Homo sapiens: one gene and its partner. The protein of the gene in region 2 interacts with the protein of the main gene of each other region in a pairwise test. Each region holds a gene or a part of one and is shown on either strand. Other genes may lie near its edges.

Region 1 (5,721 bases), on a different chromosome or scaffold from region 2:
CTATTAGAGGGTATTAAGTACATCTTAGTTTCCTTCTTTCCTTCAGTATTCATGATGATTTAGGGCATTAAAGGAGAGACAGATATGCTAACATCCACTCTTGTGCCATGTGTCTTAACAGGACTCCACATAGGCCCATCTGTAATTCTACTCCCTCTAGTTAGAGGCTTTAGATTGGCAAGTGGGTTGCAAAATTCCTTTTATGTTTTCCCTGATCCCCATGTTAGCCTGTTTGCCTCTCTAGAACCAAGAGCATTCTTGTGTGTAAATTTGAAATTTCTGTCACTTTATCACTCATATAGTCTCCTTTGGCATTCCCATGTACATCTGAGATTTGAAATTTCTATCACTTTAGGCCAGGCGCGGTGGCTCACGCCTGTAATCCCAGCACTTTGGGAGGCCAAGGTGGGTGGATCACGAGGTCAGGAGATCGAGACCATCTTGGCTAACACGGTGGAACCCTGTCTCCACTAAAAATACACAAAATTCGCTGGGTGTGGTGGCGGGCACCTGTAGTCCCAGCTACTTGGGAGGCTGAGGCAGGAGAGTGGCGTGAACCCGGGAGGCGGAGCTTGCAGTGAGCTGAGATCACGCCACTGCACTCCAGTCTGGGTGACAGAGCAAGACTCCATCTCAAAAAAAAAAAAAAAAGAAAGAAATTTCTATCACTTTATCACTCATATAGTTTTATTTGGCATTCTGTGGGAAAGGGATTTCAGCTTAAGAGGATGATTGTCAACATAATCAGAAGTATTATAGAAAATGTGTCTTCTGGATTTTTCTGTAAAGCAGACTATAAATGAGCTATTTCCCTTAAGATAGTTGAAATTCTGAATTTATTTTTTTTTTCAGTTTGGCCCAAGTCCATTCTGTCATACCGCCCTGTAGGGGTGTTTTACTACAAAAGATCCACTACTTACCTTCTTCCTATGTGAGCTTAGTCATTAAATCAATGTTCAATGAATTGTCTCCAAACTGTGATGAACATAAAATTGCATACTTCATTCAACAAATATTTATTGAACTTGTGCTATATGTCAGATCTGGGAGAACAGAGCTCTGTGGAGAAAAGTGAACAAAGCAAAGCTCCTGCCCCCATAGAGCTTATGTTCTAATGGCAGAATATAGACAATAAGAATTTAAGCATTCAGTGCACATATGTAAGTACTTGGAGATAAAATCACGTACGACTAGAATACAGAGGTGATAGAGGGGTGGTCAGAAAAGACCTCTCTAAGGAGCCAGTGTTTGAATAGAGACAGTAATGAAGTGAGAGTTGGATGGATAAATGTGGGTAGAGGATTTTAGATAGCCAAAACAAGTGCAAAGCCCCGAGGTGCAGGGGTAGGGCTGGGTGTATCAGAAGAGTAAGGAGGCAATTATTGATGGGAGTGAAGTGAGCCAGAAGGAAAGGGGTAAAATATGATGTCTCTGTAGGCCATGGGAAGGACTTTTTTTTTTTTTTTTTTGAGACTTAGTCTCGCTCTGTTGTCAGGCTGGAGTGCAGTGGCACGATCTCGGCTCACTACAGCCTCCGCCTCCCGGGTTCAAGTGATTCTTCTGCCTCAGCCTCCCGAGTAGCTGGGACTACAGGTGTGCGCTACCACGCCCAGCTAATTTTTGTATTTTTAGTAGAGACAGGGTTTCACCATGTTGGCCAGGATGGTCTCGATCTCTTGACCTTGTGATTCGCCCGCCTCAGCCTCCCAAAGTGCTGGGATTACAGGCCTGAGCCACTATGCCCAGCTGATCCTATTATGTTTTAAGTAAGGTTTTTGGCTTGGCCAACAGAGTGAGTGGTAGTGCCATTTTCTGAGACAGGGAACACTGAGGGAGAACACTAGATTTAGAGGGTGGAAATCGAGCATTTTGTTTTGCACATGTTAAGTACAAAGGTCAGATAGGATATACACTTGGCCCTCCCTATCTGCAGGTTTTGCATCTGCAGATTCAACCAACTATGGATTGAAAATATTCAAAACAGTAAAAACAGTCTGGGCACAATGGCTCACTCCTGTAACCCTAGCACTTTGGGAGACCAAGCTGGGAGGATCACTTGAGTCCAGGAGTTTGAGACCAGCTGGGGCAACATAGTGAGACCTTGTCTCTACAAAAAAACAAAACAAAAAAAAAAAAAACTAGCGGGGCATGGTGGCACACACCTGTAATCCTAGCTACTCAGGCAGCTGAGGCAGGAGGATCGCTTGAGCCTGGGAGGTCAAGGCTGTAGTGAGCTGTGATCACACCACTTCACTTCACTCTGGACAACAGAGTGAGACCCTGTCTCAAAAAAAAAAAAAAAAGGAAGAAAACCAATAAAATATAACAACAGTAAAAAAAAACAAAATACATTTTAAAAGGTTAGAGTTCCAAGGGAGGGAAAACAATACAGTATAACTGCGATTTACTTAGCATTTACATTAACTTAGATATTATAATTTAGAGATGAGATGATTTAAAGTTTATGGGATGATGTGTGTAGGTTATATGCAAATACTACACTGTTTTATTTAAGGGACTTAAGCATCTACAGATTTTGGTATCCTTGGGGAGGTCTGGGAACCAATCTCCCATGGATACTGAGGGATGACTGTACAAGACTGATGTCAGGATAGTTCAGGAGTGGAGAGAGAGACCTGGGAGTTACCAGCTTTCAGGTAGTTTTAAAACCATCATACTGTATGAGACAGACATGGATTTTGTCCCCAAGGGGTTTGCAGGCTAGAAGGAAAGAGAAAATTTGCAGAATAGAAAGTGGTAACATGAAGTGATAAGGAACACTTGGGGAAGTGAATCATTTCATTTGGTTGGAGTCTAGATGTAAAGCTTACTGGTTTCCCTTTTAAAGGGAAGGTTGCAAAGTACGATTTGACCTTGAGATCATTTTATCCAGTGATAGCAAGGTGTTAAGCCTTTTGAATAGAGGGTAAAAATTAACCCTGGAATTATTGCCTCCTCCTTCTTAGTATTCTTTAATTTATTATGAAGACCTATTATTTTCATTCACAAACCACTCTCAGATTTTCCCTGTTCTCTCCATTATTACTGACGCCACCTAAAACTAAGCCTTCCTCCCTTTACTCCCCTGGCATCTCACTCTAAAATAGTCTGCAAACCATTTTAACATAATATGCTAAATACTTCTGTCTTACCTGTACAACCTTCTTTTTCACTCTACTTCTCCATCATCCTGTTCATCTCATTAAATTATAGAATTCATGGTACATGGTGAATAGTGAAAATTAATCTGAAAAAAAGTGGCAACAAAAACCAACCACCTGGATTGGTTCTCTCAAATGTCTGGTTATGGAATATGTATGGGTGACAAATTTTGTCTTGCCTAGATGGAATTGGGAAGGTCCTAACCCTTTTGACCTCATGCTTGAAAATTCATCATCCTTTTATAATTGAGCATATTTGAGATGAGCTCTAGGTCCCTTGCGTAATCTAGACATAATTTGTGTGGCTGAATATCACAGGTCTGTGTGACCCTCCAGAATAATTGGAGGTCTGGTGTAGAGAAGCCTCTCCAGGGATGGATTCTGCATCTGGTCTGTGGAAACTCCTTCTGAAAACAGTTAAACCCTTGTGCATTCCTGGTACTGGAAAAAGTTTAGGAGTTCCTGACAGACTTTTTATATCTAGGCTTTATTTTTAAAATTCTACGTAAAAATTATTAGTAAGTATATTTCTTACCAACTATCCATAGACATCAGTCTAAAATAGTGGTGTTTTCTCTTTCTACCAGGTTTTTGCTGCAGAGGGTTTAAAGCTTACTTCCAGTGTTCAAGCTTTTTCAAAACAGGTAACACATGTCTACCTACCTGGAGCTGGTGGTGGTATTATGTATAACCTACTTTGGGGGTATAATATCAATGTATAAATGTGTTTAAGGTATTAAAGATGGAGTTTTGTTGCGGGCTGTTATAACTTGTTAAATTACATTTCAGCTGAAAGACGATGACAAGCTTATGCTTCTCCTGGAAATAAACAAGCTAATTCCTCTATGCCACCAGCTCCAGACAGTAACTAAGACTTCTTTGCAGAATAAAGTATTTCTAAAGGTAAAAGAGACATATGAAAAACTTTCACACATCTATCTTTATCTGGTTAAAGCCCCTTTTTCTTCAAATAAACTGTTAGTACCCACAGAAGGGCAATTTATTTCCTTTTTTCATGCCTTGTCTACAAGAATCATTTATTATCTACTCTCATAACTGACCCCAGAGAGTAGCAGATTCACCAAATAAAGTAGTTTTTTGGACATCATTAATTCCATAGCACTGAACAGCTGCCCTTCAATTCTGAAGTCATTACCTCTGCAACTAGGACACAGGTGCCTCCGAGTCTGGTCTCCCATAATTTGTCTGAGAGAATATGGGTTTGTGCCCACAAAATAGAGTGCAAGGAATTGCAAAGGATGGGATTTAATTCCACTATTTGGAGTGTTTTGAGAAGCCCCTAAACAGCCTGCAGTAGAATGATTAATTTTCCACCCACTCTTTCTGCTGGGGTTCCATGAGATAGACATGAAATCTAGGCAGCTACCCCTGCACCTGTGTCCTGGGGCTTTGAGTCAGCTCATGTGCCTAAATCCATATCTCTTTCAAGATCCCTTAGATTTCCATATGGAGAAATTTTATCATGTTAAAACTAAATAAATGGTAAGGTCTTTTAAGTACTACTTTTAGAATATCATTTGCATGCTTTTTGTCATTGTAGGTTGACAAGTGTATTACGAAGACAAGATCCATGATGGCTCTCTTAGTCCAACTTCTTTCACTTTGTTATAAACTGCTGAAGAAGGTGAGGTAGTTTTTCTATTTTAGACTCATACTTTAAAAAATGGTTTAAAAGAAAATAGTTACTACTTAATTTTGTAATTTTTTTTTCAGAGTGAAACCAGATACTAATTGTCTTAACTCTTTCCAGCTTCAGATGGAAAATAACGGATGGGTCTCAGTTACAAATAAGGACACTATGGATAGTAAAACTTGAGAAGCTTTTGGGGTCAGATCTCTGGAACATCATGTGATGAAGCTGACATTTTTAAAAATCAAATGATCCTTTATCTTTTCAGAAATTCATCAATTTTATAAAGAAAACAATATTGAAATTTTGCTCTATTTTCTGATCATGAAACTGATTGTAAAGCTTTTTGACAACTAATAAATGTCTTGGTAATTGCTAGATTCTAATTGTAGTGTGATTTTTAAAATAGAACATTGCACTAATGTTCTTTAAAAGTCAAACCAAATATCCCAACTGTCTCAAGGACAATTTAATCCACAAGAAGCTATTTTGAATATGTGCTTAGCTTTGGCATATTTTACCTTAACTGTTTTCTTTATCATCTAGATCACTAATGTCAGCAGCAAACATACAGTAGTCTGGGTGAATGCAGGGTTTTCCTTAAACCTGTGGACTCTTCAATCCCTCTGTTTACCAAGTGTGACAAAAATCCCCTTGATGACCCTGTCCCAGATTGTCCATGCCAGCAGCAAGTTTGTTCCCTAATAAGCATTTTGTACAGCAAGGGTGGGTCTGCTGTGCTGTGTATGTCCCTCACCTACTCCCAAAAGTAAGGTAATGGAACTCCACAGAATCCTGGAACAACTCCTGGAGAGTATGAGATGGGTTTTTGGTTCTAGTTCTAGCATAGCTGGCCAGTCTGCCCTGAATATTAGCTGGGATTCTAAGCCTATCTTATAGACTTAAAAG
Region 2 (5,671 bases):
TGGCTCATGCCTGTAATCCCAGCACTTTGGGAGGCTGAGGCGGGAGAATCACGAAGTCAGGAGTTCGAGACCAGCTTGGCCAACATGGTGAAACCCCATCTCTACTAAAAATACAAAAAAAAAATTAGCCGGGCGTAGTGGCAGACATCTGTAATCCCAGCTACTCGGGAGGCTGAGGCAGGAGAATTGCTTGAAACTGGAAGGCGGCGGATGCAGTGAGCCCAGATCACACCACTGCACTCCAGCCTGGGCATCAAGAGTGAGACTCCGTCTCAAAAAAAAAAAAAAGATTTTGCGTCATCTGGCTAGGAGACCCTCTCCCTTATTGTCTTTGAGGAAACAAGCAGCTGTGTTGCAAAGGCCTATGGGGTAAGGAACTGAGGGCGGTCTCCAGCCAACAACCAGAAAGAAACTGAGGCCCTCAGTCCGGCAACTCAAGAACTGAAGGCTGCCAATGACCATGTAATTTGGAGGCAGATCCTTCCCCATTGGAGCCTCAGATGACCCTGTGTCCCCAGCTGACATGTTGATTGCAGCTTGTAAAACTCTGATGTAGGAGACTCAGCTAAGCTATGCTCTGACTCCTGACTCACAGAAACTGTGAAATAATATCTATGTGTTATTTTAAACCATTAAATTTGTGGCAATATTCTTACATAGCAACTGATAAGTAGCAAATTATGTTTAGAGATCCTCTGAGACTGCCCTCAGGTTCAGTGATTCACTAGAAGGACTCACAGAACTCAGCAAAGTGTTGCACTCATAGTTACAGTTTATTACAGTGAAAGGATACAGATTAAAATCAGCAATGAAGAAAGGCACATAAGGTAAGGTCCAAGAGAACTTCCAATTATCCTCTCCTGGCAGAGTCTTCAGGATAATGCTTAATTCTCCCAGCAATGATGTGTGGCTACAATGATGTGTGCACAGAGTATTACCAACCAGAGTAGCTCACCCATGCCTAGGTGTCCAGGGCTTTTACTAGGGATTGATCACATTGGCATGCTTCACTGCCCACATGGCTAACTTAGTCTCCTCAGCTTGACCTTGCAAGGTCAAGCTGATACTGCATGGCCCAAGGCCCACAGGTAAACAAAAACACTCTTATCAGGCAAGATATTCTAATGGCTTAGAGGTTATCTCCCAGGAGCCAGGCAGGGGCCTATTCTTTATTTGGAATGTCCAGGGTTCAAACATCCCAAGTTCATCCTGTATCACACAAAAGGATTAACTTCAAAAGTGGTATTCTTGGCCAGGTGTGGTGGCTCACACCTGTAATCCCAGCACCTTGGGAGGCTGAGGTGGGAGGACTGCTTGAGACCAGGAATTCGACACCAGCCTGGGCAACCTAGTGAGATCCCATCTCTATCGTAATTTTTCTAAAAAGTGGTATTCTTAAGTCAAGTTACTACCCTGATTGATGACAGGGAGAGAGACCAGGAAACCACTGTGTTGTAATCCCTTAGGAAACCTTACACCTTTACTTGCTTTATTATCAGGTAATTTCCAGGATGTAAGCCATACAGCCAGAAGGCAGGGTACAAAGGAGAGGAGGCAGAGATGGTACACTCATACAGAAGCTTCTCCTGATTGTCCACTGAATAGAAGGCAAGCTTTCCCTCCTCAAGGTTCAGCCAGATGCCCACCACCCCAGGTCTGTCTGAGCCAAGGACAGTTTCCTTGACCATGTGCCATGCAGAGAGCTGGCTAGTCCCCTTCCATTCCACACAACAAGAGTCCATAGTCCTTCCCAGGACCTGGTCGCGGCTCATCTCCCAGGAAGCCACCCCAACTGCCCAGTGGCTGCAATTCCTAGTGTCCACTTCCCAGTAATGCTTTCCAGAAGACAGGGCCTGGGAACATAAGACCTGGCTGGTAGAAAACCTCTCACAGCTCCAGCGATAGGGTTGTGGGCGGTGAGACACAGTCACTGTACGGGAATCCTTGGACACCTCCAGGCTGCAGGAAAGGCTCTTCAAGTTAAAGGTTGGATGGATGGCCCCTTTGGAAAAAAAAAAAGAACAATAAGAACATGGCCGGTCATCTTTTGATGGTCCATGCTAAGAAGTCTTCAAATAGCAACTTTGTATCTTTTGGTGTGATGTTTCACTCACACTAGCATTAAAATTGCTACATCACCCAACAGGAAGAAATGATAAATGTTTCAGATGATAGATATGCTAACTACCTTGATCGGATCACTATGCACCATATGTATTGAAACATCACTATGTATCCCATAAATATGTACACTTATTATATTTATTTATTTTTAAAATTTATTTAGAAAAGAAGCAGGATTTTGCCATGCTTCCTAGGCTGGTGTCGAACTCCTGAGCTCCAGCAATCCTGCCATCTCAGCCTCCCAAAGTGCTGCAATTACAGGCATGAGCCACTGCACCCAGACTATACAATTATTATATGTCAATTTTAAAAATCAGGCCAGCTCCTTCAGCCAGGTGCACTGGCTTACCCCTGTAATCCCAGCACTTTGGGAGGCTGAGGCAGGTGGAACACTTGAGGCCAGGAGGTCAAGACCAGCCTGGCCATCATGGCCAACTCCTGTCTCTATTAAACATACCAAAATTAGCTGGGCGTAGGCAAGGTGCGGTGGCTCACGCCCGTCTTATGGTGATTTATGACCACAGCTGTTTATACCTTCCCAGTTAAACTGAAACTTCCTGATTGAGGACCATGTCTTACTCACTTTGTATATTTCATTTGGTTTCCTATTGAGTGAATAAATTGCTAACACTTATACAGCATGACTACTCTAGGTGTTTTACTCATACTCACTCACTTAACCCTCATGGCAATCCCGCAAGAGAAGTACTATATTATCTCCATTTTACAGATGAGGAAACCCAGGCTCTAGGAAGCTTAAGTGACTTGCCCAAGATCACACAGCTAGTTAGTGGAGCTGCTGGGAGTCAAACCCAAGCAGTCTGGCTCTGGGATCCATGCTCTTAAGGACTATCCCAGACTGAGATGGCAGAAATACCTCAGCAGGTTTAGGAAGAGGCAGTTGGCTATAGTTGGTGGCCACAGCACAGATGCAGAAATACCTCAGCAGGTTTGGGAACAGGCAGTTGGCTGTAGTTGGTGGCCACAGCAGAGATGCTCAAAGGTTGGCGGGACTCTGAGTGCTCTTGGGTCTAGAGTCTCAACCTGCTTTGCCTTTGCAATCAGCTCCCCCCGTGGAGGGACCTGGAACAAATCCATGTGCAGTAAGCCAAGGAGTGGCCCTAGCAGTAGGGAGATGGATGTAGGATATTCTCGAAGCCCGCTCTGCGGCAAGCCAAACCCATGTTTAAAGTGGACCACATACTTACACTGAGCAAACCGAGAAGCTCTCCTGAGTGCAGGGTGGCTCTGGTCAGGCAATGGGCATGAGGAGGAAGACGGGGCTTCCAGGAGTTCTCCTAAGTAACAAAAAAATTAACAGAGGAAAGTCCCATCAGAAAAAGGCAAACTGAAGGTCTCCAAACATCATGGTCAAGGCACATGGCTGGCTTGTCTTCTTATCATCTACACATTTTTCAGTGTCAGGACTGGATCAGGCAGAGGCAGTGTGCCTGCAGCCCAGGTATGTGCACCTCCATGTTCTCACTGTGGACTTTTCACTCTTTCTTCACTAAGCTCTCAGCTCCTTGCTAGCAAAGATCTTGTTCATCTATATGTTCTAAGCACCAAGCCCCATGCCAGTCCCATAGATAGAAGGTGTTTTATGCACACTCATGAAATAAAATCAACTAATACAGTTCCAGGGGATTGCAGCACCCTAACACCTAGAATATCCAGGACCCCCAAGTCAATGTTTTAAACTGTTGTTACATAAACTGGGTAACATGAGTTGGGGTGAGATTCATCACCATTGCTGACACCTCCTAATTCCCTCTCGATGTGCTAAAGTTTAATTATTAACTTAAAGCAGTCATGTGTGCTAGAGTGCAATGACCACGTCAGGCAGATGATAAGTAAGGGAAGTCCTAGAGTGCAGACTTTGAAGGCAAAATCTTGTCCTACTTGTATCTTGAAGTGACAGCAGCTGCAGTGAATCTAAGACTCCACCTGAGAAGAGATGAAAGACCTTGTCTAGGGTGTGCCTGTGGTAACTTAGGTCATGAGAGCAAGAGAGCTGCCTGTAAAGAGGCCAGTCTCAAAATTCAACTCGGAACTGAAGCAATCCCTGTGTCCAGAGACAGAAAAATGGATAAAGAAATGTGATATATACATACAATGGAATATTATTTAGCCTTAAAAAGTAACGAATACTGCCTGGGCGCAGTGGTTCACACCTGTAATCCCAGCACTTTGGGAGGCCAAGACAGGCAGATCACAAGGTCAGGAGTTCAAGACCAGCCTGGCCAATATGGTGAAACCCCATCTCTACTAAAAATACAAAAATTAGCTGCGTGTGGTGACACATGGCTGTAATCCCAGCTACTTGGGAAGCTGAGGCAGGAGAATCACTTGAACCTGGGAGGCGGAGTTTGCAGTCAGCCGAGATCGCACCACTGACTCCAGCCTGGGAAACAGAGTGAGACTCCATCTCAAAAAAAAAAAAAAAAAAAAGTAATGAATTCTGCCTGGGCGTGGTGGCTCACGCCTGTAATCCCAATACTTTGGGAGGCTGAGGCGGGCGGATCACCTGAGGTCAGGAGTTCGAGACCTGCCTGGCCAACATGGCGAAACCCCATCTCTACTAAAAAATACACACACACACACACACACACAAAACTAGTCAGGGGTGGTAGCACATGCCTGTAATCCCAGCTACTACTAGGGAGGCAGAGGTGGGAGAATTGCTTGAACCCGGGAGGCAGAGGTTGCGGTGAGCCAAGATCGCACCACTGCACTCCAGCCTGGGTGACAGAGCAAGACTCCGTCTCAAAAAAAAAAAAAGTAACAAATTCTGATATATGCTACAACATAGGTGAGCTTGGAGGACATTATGCTAAGTGAAATAAACCTCTCACACACTAATACTGTATGATTCCACTCACATGAGGTATCTAGAATAGTCAAATTCATAGAACAGAAAGTGGAATAGTGGTTGCCAGGTAGGAGGGGGTTGAAGGAATGTGGAATTGTTGCTTAATGGGTATAGAGTTTCAATTCTGCAACATGAAACCAGGCATGGTGGCCCATGCTTATAGTCCCAGCTAGTTAGGAGGCTGAGGCAGCAGGCTCACTTGAGGCCAGGAGGAGTTCCAGACCAGCCTGGGCAACATAATGAGACCCTGTCTCTACAAAACAATTCTTTTTTTTTTTTTGAGACTGAGTCTCGCTCTGTCGCCCAGGCTGGAGTGCGATGGCGCAATCTCAGCTCACTGCAAGCTCCACCTCCCGGGTTCACGCCATTCTCCTGCCTCAGCCTCCTGAGTAGCTGGGACTACAGGCGCCCACCACCACACCCAGCTAATTTTTTTGTATTTTTAGTAGAGACGGGGTTTCACCGTGTTAGCCAGGATGATCTCGATCTCCTGACCTAGTGATCCACCCGCCTCGGCCTCCCAAAGTGCTATGATTACAGGCGTAAGCCACTGTCCCGGCCAAAACAATTCTTTAAATAGCTGAGCATGGTGGTGTGGGCCTATAGTCCTGGCTACTGGGGAGGCTGAAGCAGGAGGATTGAGGTTACAGTGAGCCATAGTTGTGCCACAGTACT

Evidence for each region.
Region 1: the proteins of RNF135 (region 2) and CTNNAL1 interact in binary tests that used the Homo sapiens proteins (3 or more experiments, as listed by UniProt).

What each region holds. Positions count from the first base shown.
Region 1 is NC_000009.12:108,942,046-108,947,766, reverse strand, and holds the end of CTNNAL1 (alpha-catulin), read left to right. Parts: intron 1-3,748; coding exon 3,749-3,805; intron 3,806-3,950; coding exon 3,951-4,064; intron 4,065-4,722; coding exon 4,723-4,806; intron 4,807-4,895; coding exon of another isoform or gene 4,896-4,913; exon of another isoform or gene 4,914-4,932; coding exon 4,933-4,998; 3' UTR 4,999-5,190; downstream 5,191-5,721. UniProt on the Homo sapiens protein: May modulate the Rho pathway signaling by providing a scaffold for the Lbc Rho guanine nucleotide exchange factor (ARHGEF1).
Region 2 is NC_000017.11:30,994,993-31,000,663, reverse strand, and holds the end of RNF135 (E3 ubiquitin-protein ligase RNF135), read right to left. Parts: intron 3,423-5,671; coding exon 3,333-3,422; intron 2,003-3,332; coding exon 1,473-2,002; 3' UTR 753-1,472; downstream 1-752.